Linked DNA regions of Homo sapiens. Each later gene encodes a partner of the first gene's protein in a complex. Each region holds a gene or a part of one and is shown on either strand. Other genes may lie near its edges.

Region 1 (5,456 bases):
TTGTACATATAAGTTAGTAACCCCTGATGCCTAATCACTGGGCCCTGGGCATCTATGCCCTCTATAGGTTAAGACCCAAAATCCTTGGTCTGATTACTAAGTTTTATATAGCAACCGCCTTTGAAGTGCCTACCTATTTTTAAGGGAAACTAAATTATATATCCTTTAATTTAGACATTAACAAAATGTGGATTGTCATGAATTAATAGCAATAAAGAAATAACAAATATATCTAGACACTGCAGGAACAAAACGAATTAAGCATTCATGTTCAGACTTTTTACTGTTGAAGAAAAAAAGTGCATTTTCATCATAAAATCATTTTCAAGTGCCAGGGTTTTAAAACAACAGTTTCCAACTGTTGAACTAAAACTTACTTACTCTGATAAATCATCTGATTTCTAAAAAGCTAATTTTCTTTGTAAGAAATAAATACAGTTTTATGGAAACAAACACTACGTTCTTTTATATATTTAGATTTGTTTGTTTTTTTCCAAATAAATAACACAATGTGAGAGTCAAAGAAATTAGGCAAATAGTAACGAGTATGTGATAGTGTTGGAATTTAATCACAGGTTTACTTAACTTGGATTCCATTGTCTTTTATAGAGAAAAAGCATATTTATGAAATTAGTATTTTAATATTGTTTGCAACTAATACTGTATGAGTTTATGGTTTCTGGCATATCAAGATGAACAAATATAACAAAAGTACATTTAATGGCTACATCTTTAAGTGTATGAATATAGAGGTCTTTAATGACTAGTTAAATCCAGAAAAAAGAGAGTCAACATTCTTCCTCTATAATATAAGGATGGGTCTTCCCTTCAAATGCAGCCTTCTTTACTTTCCCACTTAAGCACGAAATGGTGCCGCATATAATTTTTAAAATCAATAAATCACAGTTGTATTAAGAAATATTTTATTAACAAAACAGTAAATTCCACTTGCTTAGCATTTCCAATAATGGATAAATTGGCCTTGCAACAGAAAAACAAACAAACAAAAAAAGAAGAAGAAAACCCCTTTGATACCCAATCACACAAAGCACTAGAAGGGTAGGGTTATGTGGCCTTTCTTTGATGTCTTAGGGATTGACCACTTCACACGTTATTGTAGTATTTGTTCTTTTAAAAAAGGCAACACATTACATGGATAAAAAAGAAGCATAATCAATCAGAAAAGTTACAGTCTAGAGATGTAATCAAATTTATGCCAAGTCGTGTGAAATCCTCAATCAACTGCAAACTATGCAGGGAACCCTGATATGTTTGGTATGAAGATACTTGGGATTCAAGTCATTTTCTCTTTCTAACTCTGTTCCTCTCTTTTCTTTTTCCATTGAGGAAAAAATAATTTTTGCTAGAGTTTGTGTAAGCCAATAATATTAGAAATAATTTTGCTGATAATAAACTATATCAATCATTGCATGTAACTTTAAAATTTACGCTGGGGAGAAACATTGAAATCAATCCCAAACAACACATTTCATAGATATACTGCTTAAAATTACCATTATTCAATTTATTTTCTATTATATTTTAGAATCTTTCCAGATGGAAACTGGTTCAAGCTTAATAGATAAAATAGAAAAGCAATCTTAAAAAAAAAAACCCTTCAAGCTGTAAATTAGTAGTTTTACACTTCCCTTCTTATTTAACTGGCTTTCCCTGAGTAAGACTGAATGAGACGGGGGAAAAGAAAAGACTCGTGAATTATTTAATGTGGCAAATTAAAAAAAATGAAAATCTAGAAAAGAAGCAATGGATATTAAATTTTCATTTTATACCTTCTACTTTCTGGGTCATAAAAAGCCACTAAATTTCTTTGTACACAACAATTACTTGGCAACCATAGATAGTGGTGATTTGCTATGAATTATACATATTTCTAAGGTGCTGTATGTCTGAAATCCAGGCCACTTCTTGGCTTTTTTTTCATCAACTAAAGTATCACAAAAGATGTTTTGCATTTTTTGCCTTTGCTGATTAAAGCTAATTGGAAAGATATTCTTCTCTTCTACAAAATTTTTTATCGTTCTTTTAGAAGGTATTCAAGTAATGCAACCAATTTTTCCTGAAACATCAACTTGCAATGTAATAATGCATTTTTTGCACTACCTTCTCATATTAGTAATTTATTGCTGTGAACATCATTGAATAATATGCAAAACAAGTGTATAATCTATACTTTTCCACTACTTAATGTGTTAAACTAAAACTATATTTAATGATATATATGTAAAACCAGAAAAGTTAAAACATAGTCAATAATTAACAGAGAATGATTTTTTAAGTGGGTAGTAATACAGAATCAAAAATTACTGAAAAATACTTTCTTAGTCGAGAGAAAGTGTTTACTTTCCAGAAATGTTCATCATGCACATCAGATTCAGAGATATATATATTATTTTATTAGAAAGAAAGTTTTCAATTGCAGCAGCCAGAGTTAAGGTGTAGATTAACCAATTTTGCTTCCATAACCTGCCCACATAATGGTTCTTATTCATGCAGCAGTATATCAGTGATATTCTATTTGATAAGGAAAGGTTCATTTCTTTAGGGACTAAAATCTTCTTAAGGTTACCTGGGAGCAAGATCTCAATGAAGCAAATCACCCCATTTGTCATCAATACCTTGGCACAACCCTCTTCCTTCCTGCTTTTCAATTTGTCAATAAATATTTGCTACTGTATGCACGTTTGGATCTTCCAGCATATCTGATGGATTGCTGTGGATTCGTGTGTGTGTGTGTGTGTGTGTGTGTGTGTGTGTGTGTGTGTGTGTGAAAATAGTGAATGTATGTGGGAATGTGAGTATTTCAGGGAGAAAAGATTATAAGATACATATGTATATATGTGACTTTCTAATTCACACCTTTCATACAAGTACTAAAACTTAATTGCAACAGAATGAAGGCTGTACATATAAGAAAAGAAGTAGCTGAGTCTTTGTATATACATTCATACATATCTTCCTTAGAATAAACACTACACTGTAATTTCTTTAAAAAATAAAAGTAATTGTGGCAATTTATAATGGTGGCAAAAAAAAAGAAAAACCCAACTGAAATAATTGTTGCTCTGATGTCATAAAACTCCCTATACTTAGCAACACTTATAACATTGAATTTACCAAAAATGGCTGAAGAGCAGAGATATATTTTGCATTTTCTATACAACAGGCTATAAAACGTCACTTATCACAGTCCAGAAAGCACACAGAGATGGATTTTATATAAACATATGTAATAACATAATAAGCGTGCATGAAAATTTCCCAATGATTGCATCTATGCCCTCTTGTTTTTGTTTTGAAATTTTGTGTGAAAACGTGCCTTATATTTCACATTTTTGAAAATAAGGCCTCCATACTTTTTTTTCCTCTCTCACAACCAGAAAGGGGCTTTTTGAATGTGTTCCTACACAAGTCTTCAAAAAAGCCAGCACTTTGTTTCAAATGCAAGTTCCAACCACTGCTCCAGTTGCACCAGGCGGCAAACTCTTAAAGGTTTGCAGGTTGAGTCACTCAAAAGGACAGTCTTCTCTGGCAATTGGACTGACTTCTCAGGAAAGCGCTAGCACTTTGGCTAAATCCAGGATCATAGGTAGCTTCTTTTTTGTGTTATGTTTTGTGTTGGTTTTTGTGTTGTGCCTTGATGCTGTAGTACTCCTTTGCTTTATGAATGCGTGCGGTCATCACTGTCTTTTAGAAATGTTCCAGCAACATAAAGACAAGCAGAGTAAATGAAAACACTGTGGATGTTAGGGAATTTATTGGCCCCTGTTTTTTGTTTTTTGTTTTTCTTTTTTGAGAAACAAGAGCATGAGATACTTGTTTTTATTTTTTAAAAAGTCTTTCCTTCCTGATTGCATTCCCTGTCTTCTTTTGTATGTGCTTCATAAAAAGGAAAGTAAATAAGTTTATATTATGTCTCAGATAAAATGAAGACTATTTCTATACAAGTGTCCATTTAAGATCTTGGGATCAGACATAATACTCTTTATCCTTGTTTTTCTTATTTTTGTTGGAGCTTTTCGCACTGCTGGGTTGTTTCTCCTTTACAACAGCCCCATTGGACTGTGCTGAGTTACTGATGTAGTTTCGACTCTCGTCCACATGGTATGAGCCTTCATCCCGGTTTCTGTACTTGTACATGGCATAGAGGAGGATAAGGATGCACAGGGCGGCAGCGGCTACTATCCCAACGACCATACCCGTGGTGCTGCTGGACTCCCGGATCACTTCTGCTGAGCCTGGATACGGCTCTCTGCCGCCTGCTCGGGTTGGGTTGGCTATAGAAAAGAGGATGAGAACAAACACAAAGTGATCATTGAGTTCACTGAATACCAGAGAGCTATATTAACATTTATTATCTAATTCTAACAGCACCTATGCTTTAGGAAAGGTATGCTATTGATAAATGTAGCCATCCCTTTGCCTCATGGTTACTAAAAACTAGGGACTGTGATTTAAAGTTCTCTGGGAGATTTGTTGCTGTGTCTTCTTTCTTCACAAATCAATTTTGTTCACAGAGTTTGGTAAGCATTGTCCCAAATAAACTCCAATTAGCTCTAAAGGGCCATGTGGGTGACTTAAGTAAAAAAAACCCACAAACCCAGCATAAAGAAAAGCAGAACAGCCCTACCCTATAATACTAGAGGGAATCATAAGAATCAAATAGGTGTTGCTCTAGAACATAGGTCTAACTCTAGACTGAATCAGGACAACTAAATTTAGGATTACTTTAGAAATCATATTCCCCTTGTATTTTAAAGAATACAGTATTGAACAATAAGATAATCCATACATTTTAACTGTCTGCTTTTTAAAGTATAACTTTAGTTACATTTTTATAAATAAAAATAGACTAATTTCCATTTTGTTGGAGATTCATTTGTTTACATAAGTATGTGTGTATTTTATTAATTGATTGGGGAGCTCCCAAGATGAACTTTGGAGGAGAAAGTAATAAAATATTCTTTCTCAGTTTTAAATACAGTCTAGATTGATTTTTTGGTCAAAACTCTGAACTACCTAATAGATTAGATAATAATAGAAGGCTGGCTAGTCTAGTTTTATTCAACTGACAAAACCCTTCTTCAGTCTTCCCAAAGTATAAATAAGGCTCTTTCTTGGATGAGACCAATGGATTTTGGGGTGCCTACGTCTTCTTGAAGGCCTGGTCAGGCACTGAAATTGATGATTGATGGGGAAGAATGGACCTGAGATTTAATTGGTAGATATGAGGAGAAGGGGCAGCTCTTTTCCCCTATATATAATAAACTTTTTTGATATAAAAGGATAGAAACTGTAGCGAGAGAAGAAGATTCTATCCTACTCTGACTGTAGGTCATTTTTTCCTTGTGAATTGTGTTTTCTGTTTTTCCCTGAATCTCTATCCTCTCGCTTGTCTTACATAAAAATATTACTTTTCAGATGTAATGTATTAAAAA
Region 2 (2,915 bases), on another chromosome or scaffold:
GTGCTCTTTTTTAAGGTGGGCAGATTAGTTTGTCAAAGTCTCAGCCCAGTTCAATTCAGTTGATCTCGAGTGGTGAGTATTTTGTCTCTTGTTAAACCAGACCCTGGGCTTGTCTGGGCAGAGACAGAAGCTGATTTAACAGCATAGAGCACAGCGCCCTACTTCCCCACAGACAGGCTGAATTAGAAGCCCCTATTACAAATAAGAGCACCACGAGCTAAAATTTACCAACCCATTTATCAGGATGACCATTGCCATTTGTCAGGTGACAGACAGCTTGGTCACAACACAACTGTGTCCTGAGCACACAAGATTCCATCAGCCCTGAAGGACAGCAGAGGAGTATTTTCCATCATTTCAAACCACAAACAAAATTAAGATTTAAACTGTGGGATGGGTAAGAAATCCCCTTCTTTGGCTGGGAATCTCCACCTTAATCCTTAAAGGACCATAACTGGCAAAATCCTTAGTGTACGGACAAAAGCAAATTGGAAAAGCCAGCCATTTACTAATTCAGAGGAACAGCATAGCCAAGGCTAGCGAGGCATACTTTCCAGTTGAAAAAAATCAAAATTTTTTGCCTTCCATTTTTCTGGGTAATGTCCTTTAAGAAAAGTGAATGACAGTAGTACCAAAAAGGTATTTTCCTTTCTCATTTAAAAGCAAAAACCTCCCTTTTTAATTGCCTGTAGAAGGCAAGATTTTCTTTCATTTTTGTCCATTTGTGTTTCAGAATCAGCACAGGTTTGAAGATTAGACTGTTAGTCATCTGTGCTTTCTTTACCAACTGGCTAGAACGGAACAGCATCACAGCAACGCTGCGGATCTTGGTTACACAGTGTCAGAGCTTTTGTTTTTTGATGGGGTTTTATCCTCTTCACCACCACTACCCACTCCATTTTTTTTCTATTTTTAAGATTAGAGGAAAATGACCATTAAGAACCAGAAAAATAATTAATCTCTCTGGAAAAAGGAAAGCTAAAGAAGACTATGATACCATACCCATCTAGAAACCAAGAACTAGTTTGAAATCGTTTATATTCATTTCTGTAGCATGACAGGGATTTCAATCACCTTTCTGAAAAGAGTGGGCTGATAAACTTGTAAATCCACACACAACTCTGAGAATACCCACTGCCAGCATCAAAAAGCAAAGATACTAATTTTTTAAGCCAAAAATCTGTACTAACACATGTAATTTCTTAATGTGCCTAAGTTAATTTCTGTATCAATTCAATAAATGGAATTGACTGAACTTCCCAACGCCACTAATTATTAAAATCCATCTGCTTATTCTAATGCTAGTCACCAAGAGCTAGACTCCATCTTTCCAATAAAAATGAGCCCTATGTAGCACTAGGTTTGAATTCTAAAATTCAAAACAGGCATTTCATTTTCTTAAGGCACACTTCCTACACACAGCTATCAGGGGAAAAAGCTATAAATGTCCTGTTCTTTTTCTGAAGTGTGGATATCAATATAAAATTTGTTAAAGAATATTTTTAACAGCTGACTTACATGATCGTTTTCCTAATACAGGAATACAGCGACAGACCTATCTGAAAAGTCTGTTTGGGGGCATACTTTTCATATCTTATTGACTAAAGCCCTTGAGCCAGGAAAAAAAAAAAAAAAGAGAGAGAGACAGTAAGGCCATCTATAGATAATTAAATATTTCTCTATCTAACCTGGGGCAAACTCATAGTACTTGAATAAGGCCAAAAACAAATAGAAAATTACTGTTTAAGCTTTCATTCTGCTATTGCAAACATTTGGAAACCTCTGCAACTCTTTCAACTAACATTTTTGTCCTTAGCGGTTTTTTTTTTTTTTTTTAAGTCTGATATATGGAATGTTTGGTGAACCTTCCTATCAACACTGAGACTGGAAACTCAAAGTACAGTCCAAATACATTGTGTTCAATCACCTTCAAGAGCCATTTTTCTTTTTGGGTGGGAGGTGGGCAGATGGGTTGAGGGTGGGAAGAAAATACTATTATGCAGGGTGTTTTGGGAGGGGGGAGGGTAACATAAAGAGCAGTGTACAGGCAAGTTTTGTTATTAAAATTGTGTATACTGTAAAAAGTGAATGCCTTCTTTTTACTTTTCCTTGATAACCTATCAATTTTGACATGTGAAACTTGAAAAGCCATTTGTGACAGACATAGAAATCTTAAATGAACAGTTGTTTTATTCCATGTTCCTCTACAATGTCAAATGTGTCCACTGAAAAAAGGGGCAGCTAATCATTACCTGTCTTCAGAGAGAGGTAAAACTAGGATAAGAAGAAAGTAAAGGTAAAGTGGTGAGAAGGGAGAGTGCCTAAAAAGCTGTCATGCAGTAAGAAGCTGCTCTGTCAAGAGCCTGAGCAAGTGGACAAACAACTGTCCCAGGCTCACAGGGCATGGAGTTGGCTGCCCCTCTCTGAATCCTCCATTACAGTGAACTAACACCACAGAGAGCTTCGGAAAGGTACCAATTGCCTGTATCTAGCCAACAGCGACTTGGCCTCTACCTTGGGGGTTGGTTGATGTCCATCCCAGCAGCACCTTCCATGCCACTCCTAGGAGGGAGGTCCCACAGGTGCTTACACACTAGGACCATGAAGATCCCTACATGACCTCCTCCACCCTGGATGACGACTCAGTGAGTACAGATGGGAAAAGGAAGGGAAGATTTTAAACTACAATTGACCCTTGAACAACACTGGGGTTAGGGGTGCCAACCCCCTGCTCCACACAGTCGAAAATCTGCATAACTTTTGACTTCCCAAAAATTTTTATTAATAGCTACTGCTGACTAGAAGCATTACTGATAACATAAACGGTCAGTCCATATTAGATAACACATATTTAATACCGTCAGTCAAAATAATACATATTTTATATGTTATATGTATGATATATGGTATTCTTA

The links.
Region 2: the proteins of NRXN1 (region 1) and LRRTM2 are in contact, whole or in part, in a crystal structure (PDB 5Z8Y), measured with the Homo sapiens proteins. Residues at the interface, in NP_001317021.1 of Homo sapiens: Leu139, Val158, Thr160, Arg236, Gln237, Leu238, Thr239, Ile240, Asn242; in NP_056379.1 of Homo sapiens: Asp343, His344, Gln346, Gly347, Glu348, Leu351, Asp352, Ala353, Gly356, Phe357.

The regions. Positions count from the first base shown.
Region 1 is NC_000002.12:49,917,957-49,923,412, forward strand, and holds the end of NRXN1 (neurexin-1 isoform alpha4 precursor), read right to left. Parts: intron 4,296-5,456; coding exon 3,988-4,295; 3' UTR 547-3,987; downstream 1-546.
Region 2 is NC_000005.10:138,868,095-138,871,009, reverse strand, and holds the end of LRRTM2 (leucine-rich repeat transmembrane neuronal protein 2 precursor), read left to right. Parts: 3' UTR 1-2,089; downstream 2,090-2,915. UniProt on the Homo sapiens protein: Involved in the development and maintenance of excitatory synapses in the vertebrate nervous system. Regulates surface expression of AMPA receptors and instructs the development of functional glutamate release sites.